2 separate regions of the Homo sapiens genome follow, and region 1 is linked to region 2. Evidence: fine-mapped expression QTL. A gene starts in region 2. The other region holds a variant in brackets. All regions are shown on one strand. Distances are between the middles of the regions.

The links. PIP is the estimated chance that this variant, and not a neighbour inherited with it, causes the effect.
Region 1: its variant is fine-mapped to the expression of ZFAND2A-DT in thyroid (GTEx, PIP 0.98).

Annotation. Positions count from the first base shown.
Region 1 is chr7:1,001,512-1,014,279 of GRCh38, forward strand. It overlaps CHLSN (cholesin), which reads right to left. Exons shown (of 5, transcript NM_001318252.2): 3 at 8,439-8,632. LOC124901570 (a long non-coding RNA gene) reads left to right here and starts at 2,648. Exons shown (of 3, transcript XR_007060184.1): 1 at 2,648-2,901; 2 at 3,278-3,934; 3 at 4,277-4,560. The variant G/A (reference allele first, on the strand shown) is at 4,602.
Region 2 is chr7:1,156,858-1,167,009 of GRCh38, forward strand. It overlaps ZFAND2A-DT (ZFAND2A divergent transcript), which reads left to right and starts at 3,517. Exons shown (of 3, transcript NR_110069.1): 1 at 3,517-3,766; 2 at 5,495-5,686; 3 at 7,304-9,101. ZFAND2A (zinc finger AN1-type containing 2A) reads right to left here and starts at 3,339. Exons shown (of 5, transcript NM_182491.4): 1 at 3,107-3,339; 2 at 1,301-1,400; 3 at 799-893. The coding sequence starts at 1,355. RefSeq lists enhancers at 2,441-2,955, 2,956-3,468, 3,469-3,982, 3,983-4,495 and silencers at 3,278-3,817, 3,828-3,877.

The DNA of each region.
Region 1 (12,768 bases), 150 kb before region 2:
TGGGTGAGTGGAATCCTGTGGGTGGGGAGTCCTGTGGGTGAGTGGAGCCCTGTGGGTGGGGAGTCCTGTGGGTGAGTGGAGTCCTGCGGGTGGGGGGTCCTGCCGGTGGGGAGTCCTGCGGGTGGGGAGTCCTGTGGGTGAGTGGAGTCCTGTGGGTGAGTGGAGTCCTGCGGGTGGGGAGTCCTGCGGGTGGGGAGTCCTGTGGGTTAGTGGAGTCCTGTGGGTGGGGAGTCCTGTGGGTGAGTGGAGTCCTGCGGGTGAGTGGAGTCCTGTGGGTGGGGAGTCCTGTGGGTAGGGAGTCCTGTGGGTGTGGAGCCCTGTGGGTGGGGAGTCCTGTGGGTGAGTGGAGTCCTGTGGGTGGGGAGTCCTGTGGGTGAGTGGAGTCCTGTGGGTGGGGAGTCCTGCGGGTGGGGAGTCCTGCGGGTGGGGAGTCCTGTGGGTGAGTGGAGTCCTGTGGGTGAGTGGAGTCCTGTGGGTGGGGAGTCCTGTGGGTGAGTGGAGTCCTGTGGGTGGGGAGTCCTGTGGGTTAGTGGAGTCCTGCGGGTGGGGAGTCCTGTGGGTGGGGAGTCCTCTGGGTGAGTGGAGTCCTGTGGGTGGGAAGTCCTGTGGGTGAGTGGAGCCCTGTGGGTGAGTGGAGTCCTGTGGGTGAGTGGAGTCCTGCAGGTGGGGAGTCCTGTGGGTGGGGAGTCCTGTGGGTGAGTGGAGTCCTGCGGGTGAGTGGAGTCCTGCGGGTGAGTGGAGTCCTGTGGGTGAGTGGAGCCCTGTGGGTGAGTGGAATCCTGTGGGTGGGGAGTCCTGTGGGTAGGGAATCCTGTGGGTGTGGAGCCCTGTGGGTGGGGAGTCCTGTGGGTGAATGGAGTCCTGTGGGTGGGGAGTCCTGTGGGTGAGTGGAGTCCTGCCGGTGGGGAGTCCTGTGGGTGGGGAGTCCTGTGGGTGAGTGGAGTCCTGTGGGTGAGTGGAGTCCTGTGGGTGGGGAGTCCTGTGGGTGAGTGGAGTCCTGTGGGTGGGGAGTCCTGTGGGTGAGTGGAGCCCTGTGGGTGAGTGGAGTCCTGCGGGTGAGTGGAGCCCTGCGGGTGAGTGGAGCCCTGTGGGTGAGTGGAGTCCTGCGGGTGGGGAGTCCTGTGGGTGGGGAGTCCTGCGGGTGAGTGGAGTCCTGCGGGTGAGTGGAGTCCTGCGGGTGAGTGGAGCCCTGTGGGTGAGTGGAGCCCTGTGGGTGAGTGGAATCCTGTGGGTGGGGAGTCCTGTGGGTGGGGAGTCCTTGGGTGAGTGGAGTCCTGTGGGTGAGTGGAGTCCTGTGGGTGGGGAGTCCTGTGGGTGAGTGGAGTCCTGCGGGTGGGGAGTCCTGTGGGTGAGTGGAGTCCTGTGGGTGGGGAGTCCTTGGGTGAGTGGAGTCCTGTGGGTTTGGAGTCCTGTGGGTAGGGAGTCCTGTGGGTGAGTGGAGTCCTGTGGGTGAGTGGAGTCCTGTGGGTGAGTGGAGTCCTGTGGGTGGGGAGTCCTGTGGGTGAGTGGAGTCCTGCGGGTGGGGAGTCCTGTGGGTGAGTGGAGTCCTGCGGGTGGGGAGTCCTGTGGGTGAGTGGAGTCCTGTGGGTGAGTGGAGTCCTGTGGGTGGGGAGTCCTGTGGGTGAGTGGAGTCCTGTGGGTGGGGAGTCCTGTGGGTGAGTGGAGTCCTGCGGGTGGGGAGTCCTGTGGGTGAGTGGAGTCCTGTGGGTGAGTGGAGTCCTGTGGGTGGGGAGTCCTGTGGGTGAGTGGAGTCCTGCGGGTGAGTGGAGTCCTGCGGGTGAGTGGAGTCCTGTGGGTGAGTGGAGTCCTGTGGGTGAGTGGAGTCCTGTGGGTGGGGAGTCCTGTGGGTGGGGAGTCCTGTGGGTGAGTGGAGTCCTGTGGGTGAGTGGAGTCCTGTGGGTGGGGAGTCCTGTGGGTGAGTGGAGTCCTGCGGGTGGGGAGTCCTGCGGGTGAGTGGAGTCCTGTGGGTGAGTGGAGTCCTGTGGGTGGGGAGTCCTGTGGGTGGGGAGTCCTTGGGTGAGTGGAGTCCTGTGGGTGAGTGGAGTCCTGTGGGTGGGGAGTCCTGTGGGTGGGGAGTCCTGTGGGTGAGTGGAGTCCTGCGGGTGGGGAGTCCTGTGGGTGAGTGGAGTCCTGCGGGTGGGGAGTCCTGTGGGTGAGTAGAGTCCTGTGGGTGGGGAGTCCTGTGGGTGAGTGGAGTCCTGCGGGTGGGGAGTCCTGTGGGTGAGTGGAGTCCTGTGGGTGAGTGGAGTCCTGTGGGTGGGGAGTCCTTGGGTGAGTGGAGTCCTGTGGGTTTGGAGTCCTGTGGGTGGGGAGTCCTGTGGGTGAGTGGAGTCCTGTGGGTGAGTGGAGTCCTGTGGGTTTGGAGTCCTGTGGGTGGGGAGTCCTGTGGGTGAGTGGAGTCCTGTGGGTGAGTGGAGTCCTGTGGGTGGGGAGTCCTGTGGGTGAGTGGAGTCCTGTGGGTGAGTGGAGTCCTGTGGGTGGGGAGTCCTGTGGGTGAGTGGAGTCCTGCGGGTGGGGAGTCCTGCGGGTGTGGAGCCCAGCTGTGCAGCTGCTAGGTGACACGCCAGCCCCATGTGCAGTGACGCAGGGCTCCTGCGTGATGAGAGGGGCCTCCAGGGAGGTTTAATTTTAGTTCCTTTCTTTTTAGACAGCCCCTCGTCGTCTGCTCCCCGGATGGCCGACCCGGCCAGCGTGGGCCCCTGTGAGGTGCACCCGGGCCAGCCAGGCCATGGCATCTGCCTGCTGGGGGCTGTTTTACTGCTGCAGGGCAGAAGTTGGCATCTCAGCTCTGCCACTTTCTAACTCTCCCACCTTGAGCTGCTGCTTTCCACCAGCCTGTTTCCTCCTTGGGAACGTGGAGTGGTGACCCCACTTCACGGGTGTTCCCAGAGCCCACGCACGGTGAGTCAGTCACAGCTGCTCTGCACACTGCCCTCCCATGGGGCCCGAGGCCACAGCACTGCTGGCCCACGGCACTGCTGCCTACGGCCCTGAACCAAGGGCGCCTCTCTCTCACCGAGCCCCCACCAGGCAGACTTCAAGCCAAGCCCATCTCCCTCACCACCGAAGATGAGCCGTCCCGCTCTTGGCCTCGTCACTGGGGGAGCAGACACAGCGAGGGGCGGGTGGGGTGCTCAGTGTCGCCTGTGGCTCCCACGGCACTGGGCGAGGCCTCCTGAGTGATGGCCGCCTCTGCCACCCACCCTGGGGACTGGTCCCTGCGCAACTGCAGACAGTTCACAGGATGCCTGACACAATCCTCTTTCTCTCTGCCTAGGTGGGGCAGCAGACAGGAGATCCCATCTTGGAAAAGGAAAGAGAGCAGTCAGAGGGAAGTCCCTTGTCCCCAGCATAGCGGGGGCCACGGCCACTGCAGGGTCATCTGTCCAGAGCTGCCTAGAGCGTCCCAGAGAGAAGAACCTCCTCCCCTGTGGTACTCACCAGCTGGGTGGAGAACCAGAGTCCCTGCTAGCCTACTGGGCTTTAAAAAAAAGCAGGGGCGGCTGGGAACAGTGGCTCATGCCTGTAAGCTGAGCACTTTGGGAGGCCGAGGGCGGATCACAAGGTCAGGAGACTAAGACCATCTTGGTTAATACGGTGAAACCCTGTCTCTACTAAAAATACAAAAAATTAGCCGGGCGTGGTGTCGGATGCCTGTAATCTCAGCTACTCAGGAGGCTGAGGCAGGAGAATCGCTTGAACCTGGGAAGCAGAGGTTGCAGTGAGCCGAGATTGCACCACTGCACTCCAGCCTGGCGACAGAGTGAGACTCCATCTCAAAACAAACAAATCAACCCACAAAAAGCGGGGACTTCTTGCTGAACCCCCTTCCAAAAGAAAACTGAGCGAGGGTCTCTATTGAGACAGCATCTGAAGCCGGCCCGCAGCCACAGCGTCCACGTGCTCGTAACTGCACCAGGAACTGCCAGCCGCGGTGAGCTGACGACCCAATGCCCATGAAGGCCCGAGCGGGGCTGGCGCGGACAGGGGCCGGGTCTCATGGGTTGGCCGCTCCTCCCATACTTGGAGCTGGGCTGTCCCTCGGCAGCGGGGCAGTGGGCCTGGGTAGGGAAGGACACCCAAGAAGTGTCCCCTAAGCTCCGCTGATGGGACAGTTTGGCCTCTGCTCTGGCCTGTCATTCCAGGGTTCCAGGCCCGGAGGCCACGGGGTGCAAGGAAGCTAAGACACCATGCTGTGCTGGGCAACATGGGGACCTGAGGAGGGTGGGCTTGGGCTGCCCCACGGCAGGAGTGACTTGCTCTCGTCCTCCCGCAGGTGAGTGGGGGACCCCGTCCCGGCTGGATCCGTGTGGCCCGGGTCCCAGTTCCTCTCTCTCCTGTGGGGGCACCACCTCCCGCCTCGAGCAGACCCAGGCAGGGGGCCGGCCCCCGAAAATGGTGAGCTAAAGCCTGCAGGGACCAGGGAGGCAGCGGTCACCTCGCCACCTGCCCCCAACGTGAACACCCAGCAGGCGTGTTCTTTTCTTTTTTCAGTTATATGGAAAGTAAATCTTCAATTTCCTGCGTTAAGCATATAAATAAACTCTTTTTTCTCTTTAATGAGGAACAGGCTTGCCCGCTGACAGCCGTGTGCCTCGCTC[G/A]TGTAACTACCACAGTGGACCCAGCAACCCAGAGACCCACAGAAAGTGGAGGGACTGCTTCCAGCACTCCCAAACTTCCGCCTATGCAAGGCCAGAGCAACACGGCTCTGAGCTGGAAAAACAGAGCTGGGTGACCAAGCCTGGGGCCCCTGCTGGGAAAACGAGGGGACAGTCACAGCACAGGGAAAGAGCACACGACGGCCACAGTGCAGGGAAAGAGCACACGACGGTCACAGCACAGGGAAAGAGCGCACGACAGCCACAGCGCAGGGAAAGAGCGCACGACGGCCATACTGCAGGGAAAGAGCGCACGACGGCCACAGCGCAGGGAAAGAGCACACGACGGCCACAGCGCAGGGAAAGAGCACACGACGGCCACAGCGCAGGGAAAGAGCGCACGACGGCCATACTGCAGGGAAAGAGCACACGACGGCCACAGCGCAGGGAAAGAGCGCACGACGGCCACAGCGCAGGGAAAGAGCGCACGACGGCCACAGCGCGGGGAAAGAGCGCACGACGGCCACAGCGCGGGGAAAGAGCGCACGACGGCCACAGCGCGGGGAAAGAGCGCACGACGGTCATACTGCAGGGAAAGAGCGCATGACGGTCACAGCGCAGACAAAGAGCGCACGATGGCCACATTGCAGGGAAAGAGCACACGACGGCCACAGCGCAGGGAAAGAGCGCATGACGGCCACAATCCCCCATCCCACCCTCTGGACCCTCCTCTCCCCAGCCCTGCTGCACAGCTCCCACCAGCCCCAGCTTCACACAAAGCCAGGAGCACCCCAGGAAGGCTGCAGAGAAGATGAACCCTTGAGATGCAAGAACAGCCCAGGGTATGGTCACAGGTCACAGGCCAAGGTCACCGTGTGGGGATGCTGCCCAGCCTGCGACCCGGGTTCTAGGGACGGGGCATGAAGACCCCACGGGCGCTGGGTCGACGTGTCTTGGGGGCAGAGCCTTCGGGGGATCTGGAGGGGAGACCCCCAGGGCATCCTGGAATGGGTGGGGTGCCTCCCAGAGAGATGAGAGGAAACTCTCCACCATGAGGGCTCACCAGAACAATCCGGGGTCTCCTCCACACACAGCCCACCTGGCTGCAGATGGCTTTGCCTCCAGGAGGAACCCCTCGTGGAAAGCCCATAAGATGGCCATGGGCCACGGCGGCCAGCATGTCCTTCCTGAGTCCCAGTCCAGGGCCTCTGCAGGGGGAGGACAACTCGGGCACCTACCTTCACCGCTGCCCCTGGGCTGGGGGCTCTGTGGTGGGCCAGCCGTGGCGTGGCCAGTGGTCCCCAGCAGCCCCCAGGCTGAGGACACTCCCCTGTGGGAATCCCCGGGCTCCCTCTCTTTGGAAAACCCTGAGTTGCCAGGGATACCGTGGGCTCCACACATCCACGTGGGCTCTGATCTGGCAGCCAGATGCGGCTGGGCTTGCGGGCACCCTTGGAGACCCCCAGGAAAGAGGAGAAGCTCCTGCCGGGGTGCCCGTGTCTGTGGCTGGCCTCCTGGTGTGTGGATCCCAGGCCTTGGAAGAAGCTCCTGTGGGAAGGGGCTGCTTTGTTTCTGAGAAGTAAGAGTCCCCCCTCCTCCCACACGCAGGACACAGTGCCTCCGCACAGGACTTGCCGCTGGGGGGTTGCGAGTAGCATGAGGGGGCCACGGGAAGGTCCCAGAGGGGGAGAGGAGGGTGAGGCTGAGGACAGGAGCAGGGCATGCTCCCAGGCACTCAGGACCTTCCCGTGGGGTGCTCGGAGGGTGTGTGATCATGGGAGGGGAGTCAGGGCGCCTCCAGGGTGAAGACCAGGGAGTGGCAGCCACGTGGTGGAGCGGATGGTCCCCCCTCTCCTGCCCACGTCCCCAACGTCCCCCTTGTCTAACAGTCCACACTGAGAGCAGCGGAAGGTGCTGGCAGGCCTGGGGAGGAAGGCGGACAAACCCCGCCCACCCCAGGCATCAGGGCAGGTCCAGAACAGCCACGCCCCGAGGCACCTGCCAGTGGAGACAGGCAAGGTGCAGGTGGCACAGCTGCAGGCCCCAGTCGCCCTCTGCCTCCCACAGGGAGCCTACAGTCCATTCCTGCGGCTGGCACCTTCCAGGCCTGTGTCCACCTGCTCTGCCCAGCCCACACCTTGCCCACACCTGGGCTCGAGACGCTGCACTAACGGCCTCTGAAGCCCTCTCTGTCTACAGCGACTGACCCTGCGGTGGCTTGTGGCCCTGCCTGCAGAGAAGCAGGAGCAAGCGCAGGAGGCAGCAGCCTCACACCACAGCCAGCACCTTGGGTCCCCTGGGCCAAGCGCGTTCTTGGAGCAAGAAAGAGCTCTTGGGGTAGCCCTGGGCACCTGGCCTCAGCCCCACGTTCCTCAGGGAGAGGGAAGCTAAGCCTCCCAGAGAACTGACCAGTGCAGAGACCCATGATGACTCAACTGGTTCCAGCCGGATCCACCCAACGCTATGGCTGAGCTCATTCTATGACCCCCAAGGCAGCCTCAGCTCCGAGAAACAGGAGGCTTGCCCCCATCCCCATTTCCTGAGCCCGGCGCTGAGCCTGGTGCAGGGCAGCCAAGAGCCCCTCTCCTGTAGGTGGAGGACCGTCCTGGGGATGCACACACAACACACATGTCCACACATAAACACACACGTGCATAAACACACACGCACACACGCACATGTACACACGTGTATACATGTACACACGCACATATACACAACGTGTATACACACGCACACACGTAAACACACGCACACACGTGTACGCAACACTCGTATACACATGCACACACGTACACAACACACGTATACACATGCGCATACATGCACACGCACACCCCCTCATGCGAACACACATGCGTGCACACACACCCATGCGAACACACATACACGCACACACACACACATACACATGCACACACGTACACACATGCACACACGTACACGTGCACGTGCACGCAGCGTGCACATCCACGCAGGCCCCGCTGCTCATTCCGCTAGCTGCACAGCCACACTGGGGGTCATCTCTCCGAGGAGGTCATCTCTCCGAGGGCCTCCCACAGAGGTGCGGCTGGAGCCTGTCCTCCCAGGCAGGGCCAGTGCCCCCACAGGACACCCTGCCCCTCAGGGTGACTTCATCACAGGGACCCAGTTCTTGTCTCTGAGGAAGCCAGCCACGTGGACGCCGTGACACCCCTTATTCTAGGTGCAGTCAGCACTCAGGGAGACGGACAGGAACGGGCAGCAGCCTGTGCTGGTAAGCGCCGGGGAGGTGGCCACAGCCCGCAAGGCTGTGGAGCCCACGCCAAAGCCTCTGACCCCTGCAATCCTGCACCGTCCACCCAGCCACGCCGCAGGCACCATCCACCCAGCCACGCCGCAGGCAGCCAGGGAGATGGCACCCTGTGCCCAGCACCCCACAATCCCCGTCTTCCCGCTCTTGGGTGGCAGTGGCGCCTCCTGTCACTGTGAGTGAGGGCTGAAGGCCACCACGAGTTCCCTCCTCCTCACCCCCACGTCCAAGCAGCACCCAGGCCCGTGGATTCTTCCTGTGGTGACGTACACCTGGGGCAAGGTTCACCATCAGACCCATTTCTAAAAGCACAGTTCCAGGCAACCCCTGCACGGGCAGCGGCTCTGCTGCCGCCCCTGAAAGTTCCTGAAGGCTCTGGGCCATTCAGACAGAAAGGGCAGCGGCGGCAGCACAGGCCTGGCATGAACGCTCATACCTCACTGCTCTAGAACCTTCCACACAGTGTGTGCGAGTGAAGGCTTCGACCCCCTCAGGCAGGGGTTGAGACGCACGTCCGGGACAGAACCGCGTGGGGCAGGGCCGCTCACCTGCAGAGGTAGTCCAGGGCCAGTTCGGCCCCCGAGCGCCTGGCAGGCGGGTGCTGGGCCACAAGGCCTGCCTCCCGCAGACGCTGCCTCTCCTCTTTCTTCCGTTCCTTTTTCAGCTTCCTTTCCAGGACCCTCTGCTCCTCTGGGGACAGCTCTGGCTCTGCGTCCAGCCCGGGCCTGAGCACAGCTTCGCCCTGAAAGTCAAGGAACACATTAGGCTTCGGGGATGGAGGGTATCCAGAGACGGGTGCGCTGCCTGGGGCTTCCCGAGCCCACCCTCACCTCAGTAGTGGCCAAAAGCTCTGTCCCCAAGCACTGGGTCTGGCCCCAGCCGACACCATCCTGCTAAGCCTGTGCTACGACGAAGAGACAGACAGGTCACATGAGGATGGCCAGTCCTGCGGGCAGGCGCCAGGTGCCAGGATTAACTGCCCAGAGGCCCCTTCCCCACCCCCGTGGTCCACCTCCCACAGACTCCCGGCTCCCGAGGCTCTGTGAGGTCCTGCCCCACCCCACACAGTGTGGGAAGATCCGGGCCGGCCCCCAGGGAGGGCTGAAGGTGTGCTGGTGTCTGTTATCACACAGGCCAGGTGCTGGCCCCAGACCCGACCCAAATCCCGAGGACGGTGCCTGGGGCCTGCTGCTTTCTGGCAGGTCACTGGCTGCCTGGCTCCCCCTGGGCTGCAGGCTGGGGACAGGGAGGGGGCCAAGACCCCCAAGGGAGGGAGAGGGCCCGCTGTGACAATGTGTCCCCAGCCACATCTTGCCAGGAAAGCACAGGCCCTCCGTCTTGCCCACCCTCCCCTCATTAACAAAAGAAGAGGACGGTGCAAAGCGTCAAAGCCGGGGCAGCCGGGCCACGGGGTGACCATGAGGTGACCCCAGCCGCTGTCCACATGCTTCGTCTTTTTTGGAAAAGTCAGAACATCAGTGTAGACTCCGAGCAAGGCCAGGAGCCCAGGGAAACAGCTAGGGGCGTGGGAATCAACCAGGCAGCGCCCACCGGGAGCTTCCAGGAAGGGAGGCCGGGCACAGCCCACGCCTACGCATCCCACCCCAGGGAGAGCAAAGAAGAGTGAGGCAAGCCCCCCTACATACAGATATATATGCAACCCACCCCCCCGACACAGACACACACATTCACAGACTTCACCCCTACAGCCAAACACAGCCCCCAACCCTCACCCATGTACCCACACCGACCCACACCCACCCACACCCACCATACACCCACACTCACCCACCCACACCCACAGACACGGACACATACCCACACCCACAGACACCCACATACCCACCCACCCATACCCAACACACCCACACCCAGATACCCACACATAGACCAACACCCACACGCCCAGACACCCCCACATGCCACACACCCACATACAACCACACACACCGACACCCACACACATCCAACAAATCCACAGACACCCAGACACCCACAGATACCCAAACACCCACAGACACCCAGAAACACCCACACACCCAAACACGCCCACAGACACCCAGACACACCCACACCCAGACACACCTTCACACGCCCAGACACCCTGACACACCCACACCCAGACACCTGCAGACACCCACAAACACCCAGATACCCAAACACACCCAAACACATCCACACACCATCCCAACATACCCACAGCCACACACGCCCACACCCAGATACACACCCAGACACCCACAAACACCCAGATACCCAAACACACCCAGAGACACCCACAGATGCCCACACACCCAGACACCCACAGATACCCACACACGCCCACAGACACCCACAAACACCATACACACACGCCAACACACCCACAGCCACACCCCTAGAGCCTGCCAGGGGTCCGCAGCAAGAGACAGGGCCTGGGGGACGAGGAGCACCGTCCCTGGCAGATGCCTGGCACAGAGAGGCTGAAGAGTCCCGGTGGGAAGGCCTGGGCCGCCCACACACACAGGCAGGAAGCTCTGAGACCCACCAGGCCAGGCACGCAGGGCTCTGGGGAGCAAGATTTTCATGGTGGGGATGTGGACACCCCCAGGGGAGCCTGGTGACTGACCGGCTCCAACCAGCTCCATGCTCACCTCCTAGGCCCACAGCCGCCCACAGCCGCCAACGGGGCAGGCACAACAACTGGCCCTGAAAGGTAAAAACCCTCCTGGCACAGGCCCAGCCTCGGCCCCCACTCCATGGGCCACGCAGTCCACGGCTGATCACACGGGCCAAAGTCCATAACACTGTTAGGGCTGCACAGGGGCCGCCGCGGTGGCCGAGGGTCTGTCAGCCCACATGCGTGGGGCACCCGGACAGGCCCTGAGCAGGTGGGCAGGGCCCTGTGGTAGGGTCCCAGGTTGGTGGCCAGAGTGGTGAGGACGGGGCCAAGGCTGTGGGCAACAGCAACGTGGGCGCTGGCCTGGGGTGGATGGCGAGGGGAACCCAGGCCGTCCCATATCGGGGCCAAGCCGGGGACCCGCAGGCCCAGCTGTTTCCCGCAGGCTTCCTGAGCGCCCGGTGCAGGGCTGCTTCTTGTGTCAGGCACCAGCCTGGATGCTGCGGAAACAGCTTCCTTCACACCCACTCTTGCTTCTGGCCACCAGCGCTCCCGACCTGGCAGGAGTCACAGCCCAATTCCCGTGTCCCCGAGGGAGCCACTGTGGCCACGAGGTGGGAAGCTCAGGAGTGCCACCCACTGCCCTGGGCTGTGCCTGACACTGGCCGGTGCACCTTTAACTTTTCCAAACTCCTGCTTTCTGTGCTGGGCCTCAACAGAAGACGCAGGGGCAGCTGGAGTGAGGGTGCTGCGCCCGGAGAGCCAGGGGCCTTGGGGGTGCCCGGCTCCACTCTGCGCCATCGGCTGCCCCGTGCTCGCGCTCGCTGCCTTGGGGGTGCCGGCTCCACTCCGTGCCATCGGCCGCCCTATGCTCGCGCTCACTGTCCTGGACCAGGCAATTCCCCAAGGCTGTGACCACGACGTGAGCGACCTCAGCTATCTTGGGATGACACAGGCGGGCCCCGGGAGGGTGTGCAGCTGGAGGGGGCGGGAGGCAGCAGGTCCAGGCAGGCTGGAGGGCACAGGCCGCGGCAGGTCGTGGGGAATGGGAGCAGCGCGGGAGGGTGGTGGGGCCGCCAGGATCGGGCGTGGTAATGCCGGGACCTGCTGCTTGCTCTGCTTGGCCTGCACAGTGTCTGGCCCGGAGAGCACAGGTGAGCAAGGTAGGACGGCTGTCACCCACAGACGAGCAGCGGAGAACTTTCTCTAACTGCCACCCACGTGCCGACCCTCCAAAGAACGCGGGTTTCACTAGCAAATAAGAACGTGGGTTTAATTAGCAAATACTTTTAACAAACTTGACACTATCACATAGAGCTCCCAAAGTTGCCCCAAGGGCTTGTAAATTACCTAAGTACACACCAAAAAATTTTTAAAAGAATCCCAGTGTCAAATAAAAGCCTGTGAGGGCCCCTTCTAGGGACTTGAGTTTCAGGCCTAGGATGCAAAGCCTGGCGCAGCAGCCAGGGGTGACTCCAGGCTCCTGCCGGCTCCAGGATTCTGGGAAGGGGCAGACTTTGGGCCCCCTGGAGCCCCTCTAGGCCCAGTGTCCACCCCACAGACCCTGCAGTCTGGGGCCACTCTTCTGGGAGAGGTGTTGTGGGCGGCTTTGAGCCGACGCTGTCAGGGCAAGAGTCTCTCTCCTAACATGAAGGCTTTCCAACACAGATGGGACGGGCCTCATGGAAGGAAGCACCGGCCTGTCACAGACGTGTGATGTCTAAAGCCGGCGTCTCTGGACCATCCCAGGGCAAGCAGAAAGTCGTACAAAAGTACAGTCACCCTATCTCAATGCTAGGACAGTCTTCAGCATTTCAGACTTGATGAAATACAGACACTCATATGAAGTACAGAAAAATAAAAATTCCAGCCACACATTCTGTCTCCTGCGGTTAGATGTCTTGAGGATTACATTTGAAAATGCATAAAACAATTCAATGTGCATGAAAAGCTTTACGCAGGACCTGCACCCACACAGATAAACTGCGACCCCGAGGACTGGGATGGGGAGGCGGCCAGCGGGCCTGTCACTGCACCTACGCTGTGTATTTCACAACATGGACACTTCCACAGGCTACCTCAAGCAACGCGGCACTCGTGCAGTCAAACATGAAATCCTTACCATCAGGCAATGAAAATGTTCACTGTACTCAACAAATACACTGAAAACAAACCACAAAGCCAAACCCTACAGGCTGGGAGGAGCAAAGTGGATCAGCTGCCACAGCACCTTCCAGAGAAGAGAGCCGTGAGATTCTTACAGAGAAGCTGACACTGTT
Region 2 (10,152 bases):
GGGAAGACAAGCTGGGCAGTCTGGCTTAGTCATCCGTGCCTAGTAAACGCAGGGAATGTGAGTCACCCTCCCCACCCACCGTGATGGCCTAAAAATGGCTGGAGGGTCAGACCCTGGCCAACACTGGTCAAAGCACAGAATGCTGGGCCACCCACATTACCACTGCCACCACGGTCAAGTGGCAGAGTTCACTAAAATGACCTGTGACCCATCCAGAGACAAAGTAAACACGGGCTGGGAACCATCTGAAAAGTCAACAACAAGTCTCAAACCTCTGGACTCGGGGCAAGCTCATTTCCTTAGGTCCTCTTTCAGTTTCTGCTGTGTACTCTGGGAGTCACCTAAATACTATGTCAAGGCTGCAGTTATTCAAATCAATAAGCGTATTTACTGCCTTCCTGATTGGCTTCCAAGTCAAATATTAAAATCTTTCTTGCATCTGGTGAAGACACAGCTATGGTGTAACAGCTATGGTGTAACAGATCAAAGGAACCAAGTATTTGAACATCTAAAGTAAGCTTGGAACATAAGGTTACAACTAAGTGACTCCATGAGTCCCTGAAAATAAGATCTCAGTTGTCTGAGAGTCATCCAACAGAATGTCCTGTGAGGGCAGACACGCTCCTCTGTACTGCCTAACAGCAGGCACCTGAAACGAGGCTAGTGGGACTGAAAAACTGGATTTTAAAATTTAATTTTCAATGAGTTAGCCATACGTCGCTAGTCCCTACCATACCAGCAAGACAGTGCAGCTTCAGACGGTGAAGATGAGAATCTTTTGAACAAAGGATCAATTACCTTCTGGAATGCAAACGGACACTTATGTGCAGCGTATGGAAAATGATCTTTACAGAAATCTTGTTTACATGCATCACATTTTACTGGAAGAAAATCTAAAAAACAAAAAACAGGGAAGTGTTTTAACGACTGGAACAAAATACTTCCAGATAGTACTATCAAAGTGTTTACCTACACTAAGTGTTTTAGGCCTATGAGATGGACAGGTCCTCGAGGGCCACACATGTGAAAACAATCCCAGGGTCAGGCTGTCTTCTAGAGACCCCCTATGGCATCGCAAGTATTCCAGCAGCCCCCTGGATCCACCTGGCCCTGCTAGCCAGCCTGCACTCCTGCACCCAGCCTCTGGTGGATGCTAAGTGTCAAACAGAACCTGCACCAGCACAGTTCCCAATACTGAGGAGCCAGGAAGGCCAAGACACAATTATCAGCTAATTAACAGAACAGCCAGCTTTCCCCCAACAAAATACCATTTTCTATTAAGTCTCTTAAAAGTACTCACCTAGCTGCTTGCAAGTCTTTTCTGAACAATGCTTCCCCAAATCAGGAAACTCCATTATGAGAACAGTGCTCAAAACGCAGATGGCGGAGTTAAGTGTCACCTACAAGAGAATCAGAATAGTTAGGAGGAAAGCTGGACTGCCCTTCAGTCACCAGGATTTACAATGTAATTACAGCTAATGAAAGTCAACAAACGCACTGTGTGGGGAGCATTCCATGGAGTTTTAGTACAAATACCAGGTGTCCGCCATTCGTAGTCAACCCCATTAAGAGACACGGACTCCTTCACAGGCCTTTTAATTCCTAGTCTATGAAGCACTCCTTGAACTCGGGTTTCTATTTAAACTCACACTGAGGGGGCGAGAGCTAATTCACACAGCTGCCAGTGATGATTACGACTTTGGTGAATTTTAAGTCACAATTTTATCCATGGAATATACTTGTTCACATAAACAAAACTCTGTTACTAGGTGCTAAATCACATCAGTTGACTCCATTATCCAGAGAAGATTTAACTCTGTCCCTCGCCTCTCTCTTCAACTCCCTTAGGCATTGAATCTTACTGTGAACTTATTCCTCGATGACATCAACCTGGAGTTGATCAGGGAGAAGCGCAAGCTGTTAAGTCACTATGGAAAACAGGCAGACAGCTGGTGAAACTACCGCACTCGAGAGAGAATCAAGGGGCTCACGAGGTCCCCTCCATGATCTAGTACCCACCAGCCCTCCCGGGGCCTTTTCCTGGGGCTCACGAGGTCCCGTCATCTAGTACTCACCAGCCCCTCCCGGGGCCTTTTCCTGACCTTCCCATCAGCTCTCTCCCCACTCCTGGAGGCCTCCTAGACTGTCGCCTAAGACTGGAACACTCTCGCCCATGGCAAACGTCTAGTTATCCCCTCCCGCCTCAGTTTAAAGCCATTCCCACCCTCCCCAGTTCCCTCTATGTTACACGCCCGCTACTTAAGGTGCCCATTAGTCCTTTCCCAGCCCTCCTTCGCCCACAGCTTCCAACTACAGATCCGCTGCTTTACTATTAGCTCCCGGTGCCCGACACACAGCAGGCGTTCCGAAATTGTTTTGTTCAAGGAATTCACAAGAGTTTGATGTGAATCCCCAAATGATTTTGTTCTGGACGCACAGCACCCGTCCTAGGAAACCAACACCCTACCCTGGCGGGCCGGGCCCGCAGCAAGAAAACACACATCTACGTGGCTGTCACTCGGCTGGCGGGTTAACGACCCCGTGCGACCCGGTACTACGGCCCCGATGGCAGGCCCGGCCCCCAGCAGACAGCCGGACTCCCAGCAGACAGGCCGGACCCCCAGCAGCCAGACCCCGGCAGGCCCGGTCCCCAGCAGACAGCCGGACCCCCAACAGCCAGACCCCGGCAGGCCCGGTCCCCAGCAGACAGGCCGGACCCCCAACAGCCAGACCCCGGCAGGCCCGGTCCCCAGCAGACAGGCCGGACCCCCAGCAGCCAGACCCCGGCAGGCCCGGTCCCCAGCAGACAGGCCGGACCCCCAGCAGCCAGACCCCGGCAGGCCCGGTCCCCAGCAGACAGCCGGACCCCCAACAGCCAGACCCCGGCAGGCCCGGTCCCCAGCAGACAGGCCGGACCCCCAGCAGCCAGACCCCGGCAGGCCCGGTCCCCAGCAGACAGGCCGGACCCCCAGCAGCCTGACCTCCAGCAAGCAGCCGGACTTTCAGCAGCCGCACTCCTAGCAGACAGGCCGAACCCCCGAGCAACCTGACCTCAAGGCAGGCCCGACCCCCGGCAGACCCTGTCTGCGCAATCCCGGCCCCGTACCTGGCTCTCGTCGGGGACCCAGGCAGCTGAGGTGAGCAGCAGATGGAAGAGACGTAAACTCAGGTGTCCTCCTCCGTAGTCGGCTCCGGGTAGCTAAGCAGAAAGAACCTCGACACTGGCACCGAGACGCCGTCGGAGGCACACCCACACCCACACCGGAACGCAACATCTCGCTGCCCGCGGCCTACGGGGATTTATCCGCAGCCCCCGGATCTGAGAGCCGTCTGGGCCTTGGGGTTTCCGGGCGCGCCCCGACAACGTCACCCGCAGACCGGCCAATCCCGCCAGGCCGCGGCCCAGTGGCGCCGGCGCACACCGAAGACGACACCAGCCATCCGGCCAATCCCGCCCCGCCGCGCCCCGCAGGCCCGCCCACTCCTCGCTTCTCCACTTCCCTTCTCGAAGTGTCCGGTCGCTTCTCGCAGGCGGCGCGCTTGCTGGGTCACAGTGAGGCGGCTCCGCGCAGGCGCAGCCGGGCGGGCGAGGAGCGGGGAAGCTGACTCAGGGCTGCGGCCGGGGTCCTGCGGGGTAGGAGCGCGAGGCCGGCCTGAGGGAGGAGGCCTAGCGACCCATCCGGCGCCTCCCGCCCCGGGCACCCGCCCGCGGCCGCGCATCCTGCGGGCCCCAGGAGGCCTCCATCTCAAAACAACGTGTTTTTAGGTAATTTCAAACTTAGGGAAAAGCTTCAAGAATAATACCGAAAATGTCAGTGTCCCCAGCACCTAGATCCCCCAGTTAAATCCTTTTCCATTTCACCGCGCTGCCCCCCGCCCCCTGGACGGTTATGTGGCCGCGTGGGGTTGGCTCTGCCCAGGGCCGCGGTCACTGCACAGAACGCCCTGCACGTAAGGGGCTCCGCCTGGGTAAGACCCCGCCCAGCTGGGCAGGAGGAGGGCGTGGGCCCAGGACATGGAGACCAGCCTGGGCAACATAGCGAGACCCCATCTCTGCAGAAATAAAATATTAGCCGGACGGTGCACGGTGGCTCAGGCCTGTAATCCCGGCACTTTGGGAGGCCGAGGTGGGAGGATGGCCTGAGGTTAGTGTCTCACATGTCTGTGTGAAGAGACCACCAAACAGGCTTTGTGTGAGCAACAAGGCTGTTTATTTCACCCGGGTGCAGCCCGGCTGAGTCGGAAAAGAGAGTCAGCAAAGGGCGATGGGATTATCATTAGTTCTTACAGGTTTTGGGATAGACGGTGGAGTTAGGAGCAATGTTTTGCAGGCAGGTGGTGGATCTCATAAGGTACATTCTCAAGGGTGGGGAGAATTACAAAGAACCTTCTTAAGGGTAGAGGAGATTACAAAGTACATTGATCAGTTAGGATGGGGCAGAAACAAATTACAAGGGTGGAATGTCATCAGTTAAGGCTGTTTTCACTTCTTTTGTGGATCTTCAGTTGCTTCAGGCCATCTGGATGTATACATGCAGGTCACTGGGGATATGATGGCTTAGCTTGGGCTCAGAGGCCTGACAGGAGTTCAAGACCAGCCTGGTGAACATGACGAAACCCTGTCTCTACAAAAATAAGAAATGAACGCAGCATGGTGGCATGCACCTGCAGTCCCAGCCTCTTGGGAGGTGGAGGCATAAGTCAGCTGTGAATGCGCCCTGCACTAGAGCCTGGGCAGCAGAGCAGACCCTTCCTCAAACCCAAAAAGCGTCGTGCCAACCAGACCAGATGGTCGCCTAATCAATAGAGACCATGCCCAATCAGGTAAGGACAGACACAACCAGGCATGCTTTTTCTTGTTTTGTTTTTTGTTTGTTGTTTTGAGATGGAGTTTCACTCTTGTTGCCCAGGCTGGAGTGCAGTGGTGTGATCTCGGCTCACCGGAACCACCACCTCCTGGGTTCAAGCGATTCTCCTGCCTCAGTCTCCCAAGTAGCTGGGATTACAGGCATGCACCACCAGGCCCGGCTAATTTTGTATTTTTAGTAGAGACGGGGGTTTCTCCATATTGGTCAGGCTGGTCTCAAACTCCCAACCTCAGGTGATCTGCCTGCCTCGGCCTCCCAAAGTACTGGCATTACAGGCGTGAGCCACTGCGCCCAGCTTGTTGTTTTTCTTTAGACAGTGTCTTCCTCTGTGGCTCAGGCTGAAGGGCACTGGGATGATCACAGCTCACTGCAGCCTCCACCTCCCAGGCTCAAGCCATCCTTCTTCCTCAGGCTCCTGAGTAGCGGGAGCTACAGGCATGCGCCATCATGCCTGGCTAATTTTTGTATTTTTTGTAGATACGGGGTTTTGCTATGTAGCCCAGGCTGGTCTTGAACTCCTGACCTCAGGTGATCCCTCTGCCTCAGCTTCCCAAAGCGCTGGGATTACAGAACATGAGCCACTGTGCCCGGCTTATTGTACAGTCTTTACTCTCGGTTTTCACCAGAGAACTCAAGGGCTGTGAAAAGAGCAGGACCTCACCAGCTGCACGGCGGTGGTGACTGGCTCCATCTTGCTGTCCCTCCCAATCACACAACATCTCCCCTTGAAGGCTCTGCCCAGGCCCGGACTCCCACCTTTCAAGATGTCTGGATCAGTGCAGGACCTCCTCCTTGGCCACATCGCTCTCCTTGGACTGGTTCGTTAACCCTGTTTTACCCACATTTTCTTTTTTTTTCTTTTTCTTTTTTTTTTTTTTTCTGAGACAGAGTTTCATTCTTGTTGCCCAGGCTGGAGTGCAATGACTCGGTCTCGGCTCATTGCAACCTCCGCCTTGCAGGTTCAAGTGATTCTCCCACCTCAGCCTCCCAAGTAGGATTACAGGTACACACCACCACGCACAGCTAATTGTTTTGTATTTTAGGAAGAGATGGGGTTTCATCATGTTAGCCAGGCTGGTCAGGTGATCCATCCGCCTTGGCCTCCCCAAGTGCTGGGATTACAGGCGTGAGGCACTGTGCCCGGCCTGCCCCCCTTTTCTCTTGATGTAAGTGGACATTTTAATCCATAATCTGTAACATTTATGTATTAAGTTTACTACTATCTTTGGTTTGCAGTGTTGACTCACCTGTGGAGTGGTCTGAGCCTGAATGCCCGGGGCTGTGGCCACCGAGTGAACGGGCTGTGCTAAGGGGAATTGCCACCTTGGGAAACCTGTGTAGTTGCGGCTTTTCTGATTAAGTATCAATAAAAGTCTGACCTTGTGAAAAAAGCAAACGTGAGTGGCCCTGCTTATGTTTCACCTTGCGTTGCTCAGTGATAGTTCTGCAAAGTCGCAGGAAACCTGGAATCATCTAATTATCGTGAGTGTTGGTGAGTAACACCCATAGGCACTGGCTCCCGGGGAAATACAGAGTCAGGTTCCTCCGAGCCGCTGGCCACAGCATTTTTGTTAAGCAGTTCATCGTTAACCTTGTTGTACATGTCTCTCTCTCAAGGTTCCTTATTTAATAATGTCTAGTTGATTCATTAACATGGAATTCATGGCCAGTACCTCTGTCACTCATGCCTGACTGAAGTTGATCAGCACGTCTTTTTCTCCCTTAGGCACATGACAGCCTTCTTGCAATCAAGAAACTACGTGTGGCCAGGTACGGTGGCTCACGCATGTAATTCCAGCACTTGGGGAGGCCAAGGCGGGTGGATCACCTGAGGTCAGGAGTTTGAGACCAGCCTGACCAGTATGGTGAAACTCCTTCTCTAGTAAAAATACAGACATTAGCCGGGCATGGTGGTGCACACCTGTAATCCCAGCTACTCGGGAGGCTGCGGCAGGAGAATCTCGGGGGTGGAGGTTGCAGTGAGCTGAGATCGCCCCACTGCACTCCAGCTTGGGCAACAGTGAGACTCCATCTCAAAACAAAACAAAACAAAAAAATTGGCCAGGTGTGGTGGGGGGCGCGGCGCACCTGTAATTCCAGCTGCTCAGGATGTTAAGGCAGAAGAATCGCTTGAACCTGGGAGGTGGAAGTTGCAGTGAGCCTAGATTGTGCCACTACACTCCAGCCTGGTTGACAGAGTGAAGCTCTGTCTCAAAAAAAGAAAAGAAACAATACTAAGTTCTGATTCTCAGACCCCATTCAGTTTTTTTTTGTTGTTGAGACGGAGTCTCGCTCAGTCGCCCAGGCTGGAGTACAGTGGTGCGATCTTGGCTCACTGCAACTTCTGCCTCCTGGGTTCAAGCGATGCTCCTGCCTCAGCCTCCTGCAGATTTTACAGACAGTATCAACAATGTCTCTTTTCCTTTCCGCTCCAGGATCTCATCCACTATCACAGTTTCAGCTTTCCCCAAACTGGAATGTGTCTTTGCAGACGCCCATCCTTATTAAAGGGCAAAGACTTCTCATACACCTAGGATGGATCTTATATTCTTGGCGGGACTGCAGAGAAGGTGCCGTGTCCTGAGTCCTCATGTCAGGGCACAGGCTTCCAGCCAGTTCTACCTGGGTTATGTTTATCTCAATTCCCTGGTGGTATTGGTGTCTGCTGGGTTTTGCCAGAATGAAGACACCGTGTTTTCATTTGTCAGTTGATTCGTATTTTCCAGGAAGACATTCTGAGATTACAGCATTGTCTTAGTCAAGGTGCTGCAGAAGGACAGAACTAATAGGATATATGTACATATGAAAGAAAGTTTATGAAGAACTGGCTCACACCATCACAAGGCAAAGTCCCATGACAGGCCATCTGCAAGCTGAGGAGCGAGGAAGCCAGCAGTGGCTCAGCCGGAGTCCAACAGCCTCAAACGGAATCCAACAGTTCAGGCTTCAGTCTGTGGCCAAATGCCCAGAGACCCCGGAAAGCTACTGGTGTTAGTCCCAGAGCCGGAAGGCCAAAGAACCTGGAGTGTGATGTCCAAGGGCAGGAGGAATGGACAGAAGCATCCAGCATGGGGTAAAGACGAAAGCCAGAAGACTCAGCAAGCTAGCTTACCTACTTTCTTCTGCCTGCCTTGTTCTAGCCGCGCTGGCAGCCGGTTGGAGGGTGCCCACCCCCACTGAGGGTGGATCTTCCTCTCCTAGTCCACTGACTCAAATTTCAGTCTCTCTGGGAGCACCATCACACCAGAAACAATACCAGCCATCTAGCCACCCTTCAGTTCACCATCACAACCATTGTCTTATTCATGAAACTTCTGCAGACCCACCTTAACCTCCATCGGTGACTTCTACCTGAAGCCCTCTGATTGTTGCCCAGTGGTGCTTTTTAAAATAATTTCCATAGTTTCTTCTACACCTTTAGTTGGCATTCTACTGTAAAGGAGAGATTTTATTTTCTTACTCATTTATTTGTTAGTTTATAGTCACCACCATATGGATGCAGAGTTCTGTCTCATTCACTGGGAAGTATTCTATTGCAGTCATGATTTATTTTGATGTTCACATCCCAGAGTTGGTGAGTGAGCGCCCCTTCACGCTGGCTCCCGAGTGCTGACGTGTCCCCGTCCTTCTCTGCACTTTTCCTTACCTCCTGGCCTCAGATATTCCAGGGTCATTTGTTCTCTCCCTGCTCCAACCCTGCAGTCAGCCATCTCCCTAGGGACGTTGGTTCCTTTATGGAAGGTGGCATTTAGAAGCCAGGATTTGGGCTGAGCACTGTGGCTCATGCTTGTAATCCCAGCACTTGGGGAGGCCGAAGTGGGCGGATCGCTGGAGGCCAAGAGTCTGAGACCAGCCTGGCTAACATGGTGAAACCCTTCCCCGTCTCTACTACAAATAAAAAATTAGCTGGGTGTGTTGGCACGTGCCTGTAATCCCAGTTACTCAGGAGGCTGAAGCACCAGAATCTCTTGAACCCAGGAGGCCGAGGTTGCAGTGAGCCAAGATTGCACCACTGCACTACAGCTTGGGTGACAGCGCGAGACACCGTCTCAAAAAGGATAATAATTTAAAAAACAGCAGGATTTGGGTGAGCAGTGCGCTCATTGCTTCTGGGCTCTCTCGGTGGACATAGGCTAGGAATGTAAGATGTATGTGCCTGTGTATATACACACGTCTGTAGCTATGTCTATGTTGCATACATGTGTTTTTCCAAAAACCAAATCCATAACCATGCCTTCAGTTTCAGCCCAACACCTCCGGGCTCTTTCTAGCTTTCTACCTTTCATGATTGTGAATACCTTCTCCAGCAGTGAGAAACCTGGCTCCTTTGTCCTCAGTGGATTTTCTTATTTGCTCAATTTTTTTGTTTTTTGTTTTGTTTTTGTTTTTGAGACAGAGTCTTGTTCTGTCACCCAAGCTGGAGTGCAGTGGCATAATCTCGGCTTACCGCAACCTCTGCCTCCTGGGTTCAAGCGATACTCCTGCGTCAGCATCCCGAGTAGCTGGGATTACAGGCATGTGCCACCATGCCTGGCTAATTTTTGTATTTTTAGTAGAAACGGAGTTTCACCATGTTGGTCAGGCTGGTCTCGAACTCCTGACCTCGTGATCTGGGTGCCTTGGCCTCCCAAAATGCTGGGATTACAGGCGTGAGCCACCACACTCGGCCAAGTCAGAATTTTAAGTTTCATCTTTTTTGTAATTAATTGAACACCTGCATTCAAAGAAACAGAGAAGTACCACCACGCATAAGTAAGGTGGCCATGGCGTACCTAGGTTTCTCAGCCTATCAAGCTTAGGGGCTTCTTTTTACGTGAAGTCCTCCTAAGACAGCCTCTGATAGCTGCCTTGTGGTCAGCAGGGAAGAAGGGCCTTGTAATAGCACGACTCTGCAGGGAGGCGGGCAGCTCTCATGGCCTTAGTTTGCAGACCTCGAGATGTCCACTAGAAAGGAGGAGATCGTGGCTGGCTGCGGTGGCTCACGCCTGTAATCCCAGGATTTTGGGAGGCCGAGGCAGGCGGATCACGGGATCAGGAGATCGAGACCATCCTGGCTAATGTGGTGAAACCCCGTCTCTACTAAAAATACAAAAACTTAGCCGGGCGTGGTGGCGGGCGCCTGAGTCCCAGCCACTCGGGAGGCTGAGGCAGGAGAATGGCGTGAACCCGGGAGGCAGAGCTTGCAGTGAGCCGAGAATTGCGCCACTGCACTCCAGCCTGGGCGACAGAGCGAGACTTCGTCTCAAAAAAAAAAAAAAAAAAAAAAGAGGAGGTCGCAGCGTCT